Linked DNA regions of Homo sapiens. The protein of the gene in region 3 purifies or fractionates together with the protein of the main gene of each other region. This does not show direct contact. Each region holds a gene or a part of one and is shown on either strand. Other genes may lie near its edges.

The links. Proteins that work in one complex are often made in the same cells at the same time.
Region 1: the proteins of OR11G2 (region 3) and MLNR purify together in Homo sapiens (affinity purification with mass spectrometry; one large-scale study listed by BioGRID and IntAct). This does not show direct contact.
Region 2: the proteins of OR11G2 (region 3) and HPCAL4 purify together in Homo sapiens (affinity purification with mass spectrometry; one large-scale study listed by BioGRID and IntAct). This does not show direct contact.

The regions. Positions count from the first base shown.
Region 1 is NC_000013.11:49,218,015-49,223,441, reverse strand, and holds MLNR (motilin receptor), read right to left. Parts: upstream 3,105-5,427; coding exon 2,204-3,104; intron 1,403-2,203; coding exon 1,065-1,402; downstream 1-1,064. UniProt on the Homo sapiens protein: Receptor for motilin.
Region 2 is NC_000001.11:39,684,370-39,689,271, reverse strand, and holds part of HPCAL4 (hippocalcin-like protein 4), read left to right. Parts: intron 1-4,660; 5' UTR 4,661-4,668; coding exon 4,669-4,830; intron 4,831-4,902. UniProt on the Homo sapiens protein: May be involved in the calcium-dependent regulation of rhodopsin phosphorylation.
Region 3 is NC_000014.9:20,196,741-20,201,642, forward strand, and holds the end of OR11G2 (olfactory receptor 11G2), read left to right. Parts: intron 1-693; 5' UTR 694-697; coding exon 698-1,633; 3' UTR 1,634-4,335; downstream 4,336-4,902. UniProt on the Homo sapiens protein: Odorant receptor.

The sequences.
Region 1 (5,427 bases), on a different chromosome or scaffold from region 3:
TAACCCTCTAAAAATATTTGTGTTTTAAACTCTAAAAAACAAAACAAAGTTACAGAGTTGTTGATCAGAATGTCCAGTGAGTTCTCTTTCACTCTTGACTAAATCCATTGGCTGGCGTTTTTCAGTAAGGACAGCATCTTGGCTTGGGATTGGGTGAGCAACTTAAACACTGGATTCAGACTCCAGCTCACCAGCTCCTGTTTGGGCAATCCAAGACTCACTTCCAAAACAGGAATGTTGACAACAGTACTCACCCCACCAAGCTGAGGTGAGATAAAGCATATTAAATAGCTCTTTACAAACGTCATTTGTAGTCACTGGAGAAAGCCATGTCCTGCTGAGCTCTCTACTCTCAAATGTTGATGCCCAAAGTTTGCCACCCCATGGCCAGTGGCACTGGGAAGGTCCCATGGGCAGTGTCAAGGAGAAGTGGGTTGCAACACAATTGCTTAATACTTCTGAAAGAGGCTATTATTTTGCCTAAACTTTATGATTTGCTGTGATCTGGAGAGAGGTGGGACCCCTGAACACTGGAGTCTACCCAGAATTCCTTTTACTTCTAAAAGTTTTTGCAGCCATACATAGGTATTAAATCATTTCTTGGATCAAAACTATCATTATCCTGGTTCCTTGTAGATGTACTGTTACATTTACATCCAAAACATAAAATACACTCATGATCTCAGAGGTGGCAGTTTTGGGGCAGCATCTTTGTGTATCATTTAACTGTAAAATGAACAATCATCTTTCCGAAGAGTAGGAGAATGAGGACTTCATGAAACCATCACACAAGAGCACACTTTGAGATGTGGGATTTCATGATGGTAAAATCGACCTTCCTTAGGAGGTACGTGGGAAGGAAACTAGAAAGGTTGGCGCAGTTACATTTCATACCTTGGTTAAATAAATCATGCGGTCTATTTCTTAACCAACTGGCACAACTGCAACCCTCTTTCCATTCTTCTTAACAGGATCTGTTCCTCATTTGCAGTCTTTATTTCTCTACACACCTGTTTTCCCCAAAGTCTTAGAACTGCAAGAGGAGCCTGGCTTGGCCGTGCTGGTTATCCCATCGTCTTCACGTTAGCGCTTGTCTCGGTGTAGCCCACCGTGTCTCCTCCAGTGTCCCCTGCAACTTCCCCCGCAGTGTCCCTGCTTCTGTGGAAGCCTCTCGGCCTGGACTTCCTTGCGAGCAGCAGTTTAAAGGCCGCCGCTCTGTACTTCTTTGAAATGAGGTTGTAGAGGATTGGGTTGATAGATGCGCTCAGATAGAAAAGTTGCAGAGCGACGATGTTAAAGTACTGAGAGAAGTACATCATCCGCGAATCTTCCGTGTTTATGTAAATGATTCTGCCAACGTGGAAGGGCAACCAGCAAATTATAAATGCCAGAACCACCACCACTGCAACATAAGACACAGCACCGGGATTAACAAAAGCATTGGGAAGCAAATAAACCCCCCACCCCGACAAGGAACCATCTGCAATAACAAGTAACAGCAAAATAAATTAGAGAAAACTTCTACCTAGGCAGATCCTCACCCCAGAAAAAATGACCAGGCTGCAGGCTGCATGGATACTTGCTTTAAAACTGCATAGTAGGCTCCCATATGTGTTATCAAGGCTGGACATAAACCAGAAGGAGCAATTTCTCTGAACAAGCCGCCTTGGCAGGCTTCCTTCCACAAACCCACTTCGGAGACAAGTTTTCTGTTCTCTGTTGAAAAGAATTCTACAACAGGTCTGCACAATCTTTACTTTTTGATACGAGCAAGGTTTACTTTAGCCTTCAGCATCACTTAACATTAAATAAAAAATTTTAGCTTAATGAAATCTCCCTCGTCTTCTCAAGAGCACTGTGAGGACTCCTCATCTGTGGCATCTAACAGGTGGTTGGATTAAGAATTACCAACTCTCCTTTCTGGTCTCAGAGGCTCTGGAAAAGCACTGCTGGTTACTGAATCGGATCCGGGGATCCCACCCTCAAAGCGCCCTGGGGTCCCCCAGAGCTCCTGGGGGACAGGACATGGTTTTCTCGGGGGATGGGAAGTACCGGCGGGTGGAGGCTGGAATCGAAATAGGAAAGGGAGCTGGAAGCGGCGCCCAGAGCTGGGCGAGCAGGGGAAGGGGACCCAGCGTTTGCGCGGTCCCCGGCGGGGCGGACTGCAGGCAGGCGTCTTTGGAACCACGGCGGCTCCACTTACGCAGGACGCGGACGGTCTGCCGGTGGCCTCTCTCCCGCCCCGAGGCGGCCGGGCCTCGCAGCGGCCGCCGGCTGCTCCACAGCTCCCGCCCGATGAGCCCGTAGAGGATGCTGAGGCACAGAAAGGGCAGGAAGAAGTAGGCGGTGGTGACCCACAGCATGACACGCAGCGCGCCCAGCTGCGCGGGGCTCGGCCGGCATTCGCGGCTGAACAGCGCCGCGGCCTCCGCGGTCTCGGGCCCCGACGGCGGGGACGGCGGTGGCGCCCGCGAGAGCCAGAGAGGCGGCGACGAGGCGAGAGGCGAGGAGGCGATCCGCGCGGTGCCATTGAGGCCCGGGACTACGGAGATGCCGGGGTCCTGCTCGACGCCCACCAGGAACAAGAAGGGACCGGCAGAGAGCAGCGCCACGGCCCAGAGCACAGCGATGAGCGCGCGGACGCGGCGCCGGGTGACCAAGACGCGGGCGCGGAGCGGGCGGCAGATGGCCAGGTAGCGCTCGACGCTGAGCGCGGTCATGTGCAGCAGCGTGGCGTAGGTGCAGCCCTCGCCCACGTAGAGGGACAGGCGGCAGAGCAGCGGCCCGAACACCCAGGGCCGCGAGCGCCAGAGGCGGTACAGGTCGAACGGCAGCCCGAGCAGGATGAGTAGGTCGGACACGGCCATGCTGCCCAGGTACAAGTTGGTGGTGGTCCGCATGTCCCGGTAGCGCCCGATCAGCATCACGGTCACCACGTTGCCGCTCACCCCGACGACGAACAGGCACAGGCACACAGCGGTCACCGGCACCAGCGCCCCCAGGGGAAAGGGCGAGCAGCGGCGCTCGTCGCAAGGCGGCAGCGCGGGCCACGGCGGCTCCCGCGCCCCCTCGGGGCCGTCGCTGCCGTTCCAGGGGCTGCCCATGGGTGCTCCGCGCGGCCGCCGCGTCCCGGGTCGGGCTGGGAGCCTGGCGCGTGGTCCCTCTCGGTGAGCGCCTCCTTTCCCAGCCCGCACGCTGCGGGCGCGGCAGGTCAGACGGCGGAGCGCTGCGCTGCGCTGCGGGGCGCGAGAAGCGGCTCTGCGGGGTGGGCTCCGAGGCGCTCCCGAGCTAGCTGCGCGCAGTCTCCGCCCACGGCCGCGGCCCGCCCCGGCCCGGCCCTGCTCCGCTCCCGCGCCCTCTCCCGGGCCCATGCAGTTCCAGGGCGCTTCCCTCTCCACTAACTGGAATACCCGGCGCCCTTAGCGCACGAGCCCTACCCGGTCCGGTGAGCGATGTCTGCACCCTAGACAGCTTTGGTTACAGGACTGAGCACTGTACGGGCGCTTTTGTCAGTCTGGTACTCCGGGCACCTTCGAAGGGATCTGGTCTGGTGGCTGGTAGCTGCCGCTTGACGGTGGAGGAGGGCTCATGGTAATCCTCAGGAAGCCATAATGCTAAATAATAGGAGGGGAGTCTAGACCAGAATCTAGAGCCTCTCCTGTCTAATCCTGGCTCTACAACCGAGTAACTTGTGTAATCTTGGGCTAGTCCTGGTCTCGCCCAGCCCAGTTCTCCTCTTCTGTAAATTCGCGAGTGGTGGAGGGAGCTGACCATATAATTGACCAAATAATTTCTTTTTTTTCTTTTTTTCTTTCTTTCTTTCTTTTTTTCTTCTTGAGACAGGGTCTCACTGTCGTCCAGGCTGGAGTTTAAGTGGCGCGATCACAGCTCACTGCAGCCTCGACCTCCCAGGCTCAAGCAGTCCTCCCACCTCAGCCTCCTGAGTAGCTGGGAGCACAGGAGCGCCCAAGCCCCGGCTAAATTTTGTGTTTTTTGTGTAGTCAGGGTTTCGCCATGTTGGCCAGCCTGGTCTCGAACTCCTGACCCCAGGTGGTCCACCCGCCTCGACCTCCCAAAGTGCTGGGATTACAGGCGTGAGCCACCGCGCCCGGCAGTGACCAGATAATTTCAAGGATCCGTGAGCATGTTTACTTATTATAAAGAACAAGACAAATATTTACGTGGACACTAGAGTACTTTCACATGTGATATGTCATTCTTATGTACAACATGTTTTATAAACTTAAAAAACTAGAGGATTTGTCAACACCGGAAAGAACGAAAATTGGGGAAAGGGGCTAAAACGGATGTTCAGTCTGTTCGGTGTGGTCTTAATAACAATAGCTAACACTTACTGAGAATTTAGATGGATCTGGCCCTGTGCTCTCCATTTAATCCTCATGGCCCGGGGCGCTCCTTTCGCCCATGAACAAAGCGGTCTTGCTTGAGATCAAGCAGGCAGTAAGAGGCGGGACTGGGATATGGGCTCTGGTCGGCCTAATCCCAGAGCTTGCAAGCCTGACGTCCTACTCACTGCCCAGCTCCACCCCCTCAGTGGCTTAAATCCTCAACCTCTTCTCTGGAGTCTCGATTCTGGACCTGACACCTGGCTTTGCCTAGGGCAAGCTTCTCCTGCAGTTCTCTCTCACATGCAGACTGTGAGCTTGGAGGAGGGACACCTGTCGCCTCCCTCATCGCTGCTGTTTCCAGCGGTCCTAAAACCGCCCTCCCTAGCGCTTTCCTCCGTGGTCACCCGTAGTCCCTGAGGGACAGGTGCCTGCGCTCTCTTTGAAGCACTGCATCTGCGGCCGTTCACACCCATGCCGAGTCTTGGAATGCCTTGGCCTCTAGTTTGTTGACCTCCTTTCCACCTATGACCTTGCTCTCCACCCGATCTCAGCCGCGCCTGTCGACGGAACTTACACCTCACGGTTGCCTGCCAGCCTTCCTCCACCTCCACTTCAGTCAGCCCTCTTTCTGACCTCCGCCCGCTCTCTTTTTAGCTCTCTTCCCCTAGCACCTCAGTTCCGGTAATCCTTCAACCCACTGCGACCTCCATCGCTGGCTCCTCCTTCCTTTTCCCGGTCCCTTGCCTGCCCCAGGTCTTCACTTTCTTCCTTTACCCAACGTAAATTCCACGGGCAGTCGCCATCACTCCCACACAGACGCCCTCGACTCCCTTGCTCTTTTCTCCATTGTCAGCCTCGTCCATCCACCAAGAGCACCACAACCCTGGTGAAGCCGAATTCCCTGCCTACTCCTTGCCTGCTCTCACATGGCGTTGTTTCACTTGAAAGCACAACCTCTAGCGGGGTGCTTCGTTCCCCCGGCCTTCCCAACTCTCACCTGACCTCATTCACTCTCCCACCACCAGGCTGCTGGTTTATACCCCCTCCTCTCTCCTTAGACCCAACACCCACCACCCCT
Region 2 (4,902 bases), on a different chromosome or scaffold from region 3:
GGTAGGGGAGCTATAAGAGAGAAAAAACCCCTGCTCTCATGGGTCCCAGACTCAGTGAGGACTAAGCACTCACTGGGAGAAGTGAGTGCATAGGGAAAAGCACTTTTATTTTCCCCATGGGAAAAATAAACTTTTCTCACGCTTCAACCTGCTCAAAAGTGGACTGGGGCATATTGGAGGGGATCAACTCCTTGCCATTGAGCAAAAAGGTCTGGAGGATTTTTTTTCTGACTCAGGCAGGGGTTTAATGCAAAGACCTGTCTCAAATCAGACTGCATCCTGGAATTCTACAGCACCAGGTGAGGGTCAGAGGGCTATGAAGTCTACACGCCTGTGGGGGACTGACTCATGCCCAAAGTGCTGAGCTTGGGCTGCTGACTCTCCACTGTCCAGACTGGAAAAGGCTGATCATAAGGAAGCAGGCTTCAACCAGGCCCTGAAGACTGATTATAGTCCAGGAGAGAAGAAAGGATATTAGGGGAGAGGAAAATAGCTTAGCAAAGAGGTGAGGCGTGTCTGGCTGTGAGAAGGCTGGCTTGAGAGGAGTATGCGGTGGTGAGTGAGCAATGAGAGCTGAGGCGAGATAGGTGGGCACTTTGAGACCAGATTCTAGAGGATTCTAGAGTTTCAGGGGGCCCATGGGCATGGCTACTTCTAGTCTATATTGTAACTTTCGGGGGGAAAAAGCCATTCCCTCCTAACAGAGGAATCAAAAGAAAGGCACTTCCTGCCAGGCAGGGAAGCCCCATGGGCATGAGCATAGCTTGATTTCAGCCCCCTCGGCTGTGTCCCTGGCTATGGACATAATGAAGGTACCAAGAGCATTTCAAAATAAGAGACAACAGGACTTGATGGCAAGTTAGACCTAGGGCAAAGGGAAGGGAAAAAATGAAGGTAACTAAGATTGTGTTCCCCACACCCCGGGGATGAGGGAGAGAAGGAAGGGGCAACAGAGACAGTCTGACCATCTCTGGTTGGGAGCGAGTCTGGCTGTAGACTTGCTGTCTCAGAGGTGCTGGTGGACACCCCTAGGGTGGCTATCTCCTGGGTGTCAGAGATTGTGGCCCCAGATGGTTCCACTGCGGCCAAAAGGGAGATCAGAGCTCTGATTTTCCCAGAGGGCAGATGTGGGTGGAGAAGGTCTGTGCTGAACAAGAGTAGCCATGATTTGGAGACGGTGGCCCAGGCAGGTAGCACGGATTCAGCCTGAGTGCTCATCTGGGCCCTCCCACTGACCTGCTGTGTAACCCTGAGCCAGTTTTCTCCTATCTCTCAATTTCCATTTTCACTGAAATAAGGGGATGATCTTAAAGGGCACGGCCAGTTTTGACCTTCTTTTCTTAATTTTTTATTTACTTATTTTTTTTTTGAGACAGGGTCTTGCTCTGTTGCCCAGGCTCGAGTGCAGTGGCTCAATCACGGCTCACTGCAGCCTCAACCTCCTGGGCTCAAGTGATCCTCCCACCTCAGCTTCTGAGCAGCTGGGACTACAGGCACATGCTACCATGTCTGGCTAATTTTTAAATTTTATGTAGAAACAGGGTTTCCTTATCTTGCCCAGGCTCAGCTTTGACCTTCTGATGATCTAGAGGGAATGAGGAGAAATAAAGGAGGAGGCATAGTCTGGGTCTGAGACCCAATAAAAGCAGGGAACAGGAAGGACCCTAGGAGACAGAGAATTGTGGAGAAGGCAGCACAGAGCAGGGAGGAGAAAAGGGGTATAAGGTGAGAGCCACACAGACACTGTGACACACACAGAGAGACGTGTGCACTCTGACAGATTTGCAGCCTCAGACATTGACATGCTCCCACACACAGACCCAGCCCCTCATGCTGACTCTCAGGCACATCCTACGGAAGACAGCTGGAGAGGCTGTGCCTCCCCCCATCAGACATCTCTGCCTGACTTCTCCAGCTTCCTTGACTATACCCTGAGCCTTGAGAGTCCTTTGGATTTGGGAGAGGGGTGAGGCCTGCCTCCTTTTGCCTATGGGTGTTCCAGAGGCATCCTTGCTCTGGCCTCAGTGTAGCCATTTTCCGCCCAGCCTCAGGTTCCTGAAGATGGCATGCTCCCCCTCCCTGGCTTTTCCTGAGGGCATACAATTCCTCATCCTCTGGGAGTGGGGAAGGATGTTGCTACCTGCACTGCTCCTTGGTCTTCCTTATGGCCCAGTGGAGGAATCTGAGGCCCAGAGAGGATCTGTAACTAGCCTGAGGTCAGCCCAGCAAAGGGGAGTGGGAAGGAATGGACCAACCTCAGATTTGCTATTTAGTGTTTTCCCAGTTGTAAGAATTAGAAGCCCACTGGCAGACATCGGGCTATGGGAGTGGAATTCCTTCTGCCAGCCCAAGGGCTTCCTTTTCCAGAGTATCTTGAGGACAGGCTACCTGGGGTGGGAGCCTGACCCTCTTCCAAAGAGACTCTAGGCAGGTCAGAGGCACCTCCCAAGCCATGTCCTGGGAAACCCAGACTCTGCAGGGACATTCCTCCCAGGGAGGTCAGAGAGGAGGGTCCACTCTGCCTTCAAGGTCTGGCCACACTTCCTGAGGAGGGCCTGTACCTCTTCAAACACTTCCCCTGGCACAGCCCACTTACGGGCTCACATTCCCACTGGGGAATAACTCTTGATCCTTCCCAAACCTGCTTCTCAGCAACAACACTTCTATCCACTGAGGCTCAAATCTGAGCCTCTGCCTCAACTCCTCTGTTCCTCTTACTCCCACATCCAATCAACTGCAAAGTCCTGCCAGTGCCCTTCTTAACGTCTCAGCCCATCCACGTCTCTCCACGACCCTTACTCTGGCAGCATTGTCTCTCACCTGAACCGTGTAGCAGGCCCCTCCCTGCTCTACCTACCTGCCCCCACCAAAGGTCATCTTGCATGCTGTGGCCAAAGGAAAAATTCTTTTTTTTCTTTTTTGAGACAGGGCCTTTCTTTATCGCCCAGGCTGTAGTACAGTGGTGCCATCTCAGCTCACTGCAACCCCTGCCTCCCAGGCTCAAGTGATCCTCCCATCTTAGCCTCCCAAGTATCTGGGACTACAGGCATGCACCACCACACTCAGTGAATTTTTTTTTTTTTTTTTTTTTGAGACGGAGTCTCACTCTGTCGCCCAGGCTGGAGTGCAGTGGAGCGATCTCGGCTCACCGCAAGCTCCGCCTCTGGGGTTGATGCCATTCTCCTGCCTCAGCCTCCCAAGTAGCTGGGACTACTGGCGCCCGCCACCATGCCTGGCTAATTTTTTGTATTTTTAGTAGAGATGGGGTTTCACTGTGTTAGCCAGGATGGTCTTGATCTCCTGACCTCGTGATCCACCTGCCTCAGCCTCTCAAAGTGCTGGGATTACAGGCGTGAGCCACTGCGCCCGGCCAATATATTTTTTTTTTTTTTGAGGTGGAGTCTCACTGTGTCACCCAGGTTGGAGTGCAGTGGCGCGATCTCAGCTCACTGCATGCTCTCCCTCCTGGGTTGACGCCATTCTCCTGCCTCAGCCTCCCGAGTAGCTGGGACTACAGGCGCCTGCCACGACGCCCAGCTAATTTTTTTGTATTTGTAGTAGAGACAGGGTTTCACCGTGTTAGCCAGGATGGTCTTGATCACCTGACTTCGTGATCCACCCACCTTGGCCTCCCAAAGTGCTGGGATTACAGGTGTGAGCCACCGTGCCCGGCCGCGCCCAGCCAAATTTTTAAATTTTTTGTAGAGACTAGGTGTCACTGTATTGCCTAGGCTGGTCTCAAACTCCTGGCCTCAAGCTGTCCTCTCATCTCAGCCTCCCAAGGTACTGGGATTATAGGCATGAAATACGGTGCCCAGCCTGGAAAAATTTTAAAACACATACCTTTTCTTGGGTCCCCAGTGACTCGTTCAAGACTGGGTATATCATAAGCATTCTGTAAATATTGTGGAATGAATGCAATCTTCCCAGCCCTTGTTTTAAAAAATCCCAGGAGCGTCTGTTCCCTCCAATTTCTTGGCATGGATTGGAGGCCCTTTGTAACCAACCATCTGCCTCTTTGACCCAGTTACAAGTTATTGAAGGTTGGCTCATGTCTGCTTCATCTCCATCACTGGCACAGGGCCTAGCACACAGTCAGTCTCAATAAATGCTCAGGGAATGAATGGATTAATGAAAAGCCAAATGTCAGTAGAGGATTTCTATTTGTATAGAGGAAAGAGGGAGAGAAGCTCCCTGCTGGGGTGGCCCAAGAAAGCCTTGAGGAAGAAATTGGGAGACAGTGCCAAGGGGACACACAAGGAACCTACCTTGGGTCCCTTCTCAGGACAGAAGCCTGCCAAGGAGGGTGGGGGCTGACTTCAGAAAGCCCTAAATGGCAAGGAGAGGAGTCAAGGCCTTAGTCTGTGGGCAGGGGAGCCATGAAAGGTGTGAGCAGGAGGGGAGAGGATGAAGACTGTGGCGTGCTGCACGGTCAGTGAGGAGGAGAGCTGAGACCTGGAAGGCGGGAGACCCCCGGGGCTAGGAGAAGAAACCTACCTGAATGCAGGTGTTGTGAGGGGAGAGGAGGCCCCATTATGGGGGAGTGTCATGAGGGGAAGGAACCTGCAACCCCGCCCTGTGTGTGGCAGGGGAGGGGGCAGCTGTGGCTGAGGCAGGGCCTTTCCCTGGACCCAGTCGGAGGAATCCCTCTGTCCCACAGGCCCCGCCATGGGGAAGACCAACAGCAAGCTGGCCCCCGAGGTGCTGGAGGACCTTGTTCAGAACACTGAGTTCAGCGAGCAGGAGCTGAAGCAGTGGTACAAGGGCTTCCTGAAGGACTGCCCCAGCGGCATCCTCAACCTGGAGGAGTTTCAGCAGCTCTACATCAAGGTGGGCGGCCGGCACCTGGTGTGAGGGAGCCAAGTACCCGGGTTGGGGGAGGCGAGGAACCGGGGGTGAGGG
Region 3 (4,902 bases):
CAGCATGGCCAGTTAATTCTTTCAGCCTGGTCTACTGAGGATGGCTAGGACTGCTGTCCTAACACAAAAGAAACTGACAACAGCTAATTTCCTCTAATTGATTTGACTGTGTTACTCATGAAACAAGTGAATGATATTATTAAGTTAATAAGTTAACCATTTAATTTAGAATAAGGCCAGTGTCAAAAGTGACATAAAAGAAGTAATTCAAACAGTTTTATGGTCTCATATTACATGGCTACACAGTTTCACTCAGTCTCTGCCACAAAAAGCTGCAATGATTTCACCGTCTGAAAATGAAATTCATTTGTGTAAGAATATATCCATAAATACATATTCTGTTATATATTTATACAAAGGCTCTTGAAGGAAAGTGTTGTAAACATGCCTGAAAATTATAATGGCTTTACACCTAGTAAAATGTAAATGACAGCTTATCAATTTTGGTCAAAAGTTTTCTTGAGCCTATGGTAAAAATGTGAACGCGAGCAAAGAATCAATCCAGATCAATACGTCAGTTTAAAAGAAAAAAAGTGACTATTGACATATCTGCATTCTGTTTTTTACTTTTTACTTTTATTTCAATAGTAAATTTATGCATTTTCTTTCCCAAAATGATTTAAATATAAATCTGATTCCCCATCTATGTTTGCACCGTCATTCAGTAATTGCTGGTGCTTTTACAATTCACAGGCACATGAAAATCTTCAACAGCCCCAGCAACTCCAGCACCTTCACTGGCTTCATCCTCCTGGGCTTCCCTTGCCCCAGGGAGGGGCAGATCCTCCTCTTTGTGCTCTTCACTGTTGTTTACCTCCTGACCCTCATGGGCAATGGTTCCATCATCTGTGCTGTGCACTGGGATCAGAGACTCCACGCCCCCATGTACATCCTGCTCGCCAACTTCTCCTTCTTGGAGATATGTTATGTCACCTCCACAGTCCCCAGCATGCTGGCCAACTTCCTCTCTGACACCAAGATCATCTCGTTCTCTGGCTGCTTCCTCCAGTTCTACTTTTTCTTCTCCTTGGGCTCTACAGAATGCTTTTTCCTGGCAGTTATGGCATTTGATCGATACCTTGCCATCTGTCGGCCTCTACGCTATCCAACCATTATGACCAGACGTCTCTGTACCAATCTTGTGGTCAATTGCTGGGTACTTGGTTTCATCTGGTTCTTGATTCCTATCGTCAACATCTCCCAAATGTCCTTCTGTGGATCTAGGATTATTGACCACTTCCTATGTGACCCAGCTCCTCTTCTAACTCTCACTTGCAAAAAAGGCCCTGTGATAGAGCTTGTCTTTTCTGTCTTAAGTCCTCTGCCTGTCTTTATGCTCTTTCTCTTCATTGTGGGGTCCTATGCTCTGGTCGTGAGAGCTGTGTTGAGGGTCCCTTCAGCAGCTGGGAGAAGAAAGGCTTTCTCCACCTGTGGGTCTCACCTGGCTGTGGTTTCACTGTTCTACGGCTCAGTACTGGTCATGTATGGGAGCCCACCATCTAAGAATGAAGCTGGAAAGCAGAAGACTGTGACTCTGTTTTATTCTGTTGTTACCCCACTGCTTAACCCTGTGATATATAGTCTTAGGAACAAAGATATGAGAAAAGCTCTGAAGAAATTTTGGGGAACATAAAATGTTAATCAAAAAGGTCCTTGCGTAATTAATCTTGTCTTTAATTTTGGGGTTTAAAAAAAAAACTGGTCTTGGCCAGGCGCGGTGGCTTACGCCTGTAATCCCAGCACTTTGGGAGCCCGAGGCGGGTGGATCACGAGGTCAGGAGATCAAGACCACCCTGGCTAACACGGTGAAACCCTGTCTCTACTAAAAAATACAAAAAATTAGCCGGGCGTGGTGGCGGACGCCTGTAGTCCCAGCTACTCGGGAGGCTGAGGCAGGAGAATGGCGTGAACCCGGGAGGCGGAGCTTGCAGTGAGCCGAGATCGCGCCACTGCACTCAAGCCTGGGCGACAGAGCGAGACTCTGTCTCAGGAAAAAAAAAAAAAAAAAACTGGTCTTATACAGTTAATTGTTCATCTTACTATTGGCCAAAGCTAAAATACCTGTGAGCATGTTTCTGTTATTTCTCCTTTCAGATCTTGATTATTTGCCCAGTTGTGTAACATGCCTCAATGTTTTTTAATTGACTGGTGGGCATTGTATTTTAAAAACTATAAAGACAATATATGCAGTAATGAAGGTTTTGTTCTAGCAAGTAGATGGAGTAGAGGCAGATCACATTGATTCTATTTAAGCACTACTTGTATGTGTTTTTAAAATGATCTGTGCTCGTTTTAGTTTTACTCTTAGGGTGTGGCTCTTACTGCAGGAACATAGCCTTTCTGAGACCTCAGGGACAAATCTGGACTGTTTAGAAGGTCCCTCCGCTTCAGCTGATCCTAGCCTCCTATTTCAGTACTTCTTGAACCCCATGACTCCTGAAACTTCCGCTTTGCTCTTTAGACTCTCAGCTTTTGTTTCTGCTAGCTATTTTGGGGTCTCACCGTGTACACACAGCTTAGAAATCCAAAAATGCCTTGAAGGGGAATTGCATCATATTTTTAGCCTAGCTTCTGTGGTCCTTCCCTCTCCAGGATTTCTCAAACGCCAGGTGCTTTGGCAACTTTCAAATTCTCTACCTTCTCAGTTCAGTAAAACTACTGCTTTCTGCTCAGTCCTTATTCCTCCTTTCCTCATACTCTCCCAACCCAGTAAATGGTCAAATATCCTCAGGGAAATACACATGGGGAATGTGAAACTCACCTCCCTTTTCTTCCCTTCATCTTGGACTGTAGCCCATGAAGGCTTGCCTATGTCAGTTGCTCTGAGTGCCTTCAAATGGTTGTTTTATGTATTTTGTCCAGATTTTACTGTTGATAGAAATTATTTTGGGTTTAGTACAAGTTTTTCAGTCATGACCAGAAAGTTTTTTCTATTCTATCTAGATTCCATACATTCTCACTTCTTCCTTCACTTTCAGGAGATTATCATGTAGCATGTGTCTTCAAAAGCCCACAAATCAGAGAGACAGGTGGATATAGAGGCTGGCATAAACACAAATCTGGGATGCACACCTGCTTTTCTTTTCATTGCAACCAGCAAAGAATCCCTGAGGACTCTTCCCCTGCAGGAAGCAGGGGAAAGGTTACCTATGGTAAAATAAATGATAAAATCAGGACCACAGATTTTGGCCTTTTTTTAATGGAAGGCACCCAGTAATTGTAGATCAGTAAAAATAGTCACCCAGAATTTGTATTAGAAGCTTGGGCTAGTTCTCCTTGAACTTTCCCCTAGGCCTGGAGTGAAAGGTCATGCTATGATTGAAGTGTCTTCACTAATCCAAATACCTGTTTTTCAGGTTAAATAAATAGGAATTGGGAATCAGGGAGCAATTTGCTGAGGATAATGACTTAATTCCAAAAAAAAAAAAAAAAAAAGTTCCTATCCACCACCCTTTTAACTAGCCCAAGTTCCCTTTGCTTTGAAAAGTAACCCTGAATTTCTCTTTAGGACTTCTCACTTATTTGCCAGTCATATCACAATAAGTTTGTTTCCTTAATATAAACGAAGCTCTGTAAAATAGTAAGAGAACAGAACAGTATCCCAGTAAGAAAATGAGCAAAAGGATATAAACGAATAACATCCAGAAAAAGATTCTTAAACATGGAAAGGGCACTAACTAATTCATAAAAAGGTAAAAGTAGAATAAGCCTATAAATATATCTCACTTTTTATCTATTAAATTGACAAAGATCAAGAAGTTTGATTACACATTGCGTGTCTGAGGATTGTGAAATGGGTTCTCTCACACTTAGCTGGTGGGCGTATCAGCTTTACAAACTCTATATAGGGTGACAAGGCAACCTCTATCAAAATTTAGAAGACACATATCCTTTAAAACAGCACCTCAACTTTTAAGTTGTTTAACCTACAGATATTTTTACACATGTGGGAAATGTTTACTGCAGCATTGTTGTAATAGCAAAATATTGAGAAAAACATCAGTTCCCATTAATAGAAGACTAGTAAAATGAGCTATGGTGAGTTATACCATGGAATATTATGTCTTCAATTTATAAACTATGAAGCAGTTCCATATGCAATGATATATAATATGTCCAAGACACACTGTTAAATGAAAAAAGCAAAGTGAATAGCAGAGTGTATTGTAGCTGCCTTCCATGGAAATGTGTATATCTCCTGAAAGAGCTCCAAAAAACTGATAACAATGGTTGCTTCAGGCAAGAAGAATTTTGTGTCTAAGGAACAAGATAGTAAAGGAGACTTTTTTTTCATAACTCCTTTTGTGCGTTCAAATTCTTTATCATGTGCCTATATTATGCATTGAAAAAATAATAAAACATATTTTGTAAAATTTTTTTATTTCCATAGGTTATTGGGGAACAGGTGATGTTTGGTTATATGAGTAAGTTCTTTAAACAAAGAACAATTTTCAATTTTTTTTTTTTTTTTTTTTTTTTGAGATGGAGTTTAGCTCCTGTTGCCCAGGCTGGAGTGCAATGGCGCCATCTCGGCTCACTGCAACCTCCACCTCCCACGTTCAAATGATTCTCCTGTCTCAGCCTCCTGAGTAGCTGGGATTACAGGTGCCCGCCACTACGCCTGGCTAATTTTTGGTATTTTTAGTAGAGATGGAGATTCACCATGTTGGCCAGGCTGGTCTCGAACTTCTGACCTCAGGTGATCCACCCACCTCGGCCTCCCAAAGTGCTGGGATTACAGGCGTGAGCCACTGCACCCGGCCAACAAAGAACAATTTTCTAGGAGAACTTTCTGATCATTAGATTTGGAAAATCATTTTTTCCCGCAATTCTAGGGTTCCTTAGGAGCCTGTTTATTGATAGAAATGTTGAAGCGAGGTCTTCAGAGCCCCTTAACATAAT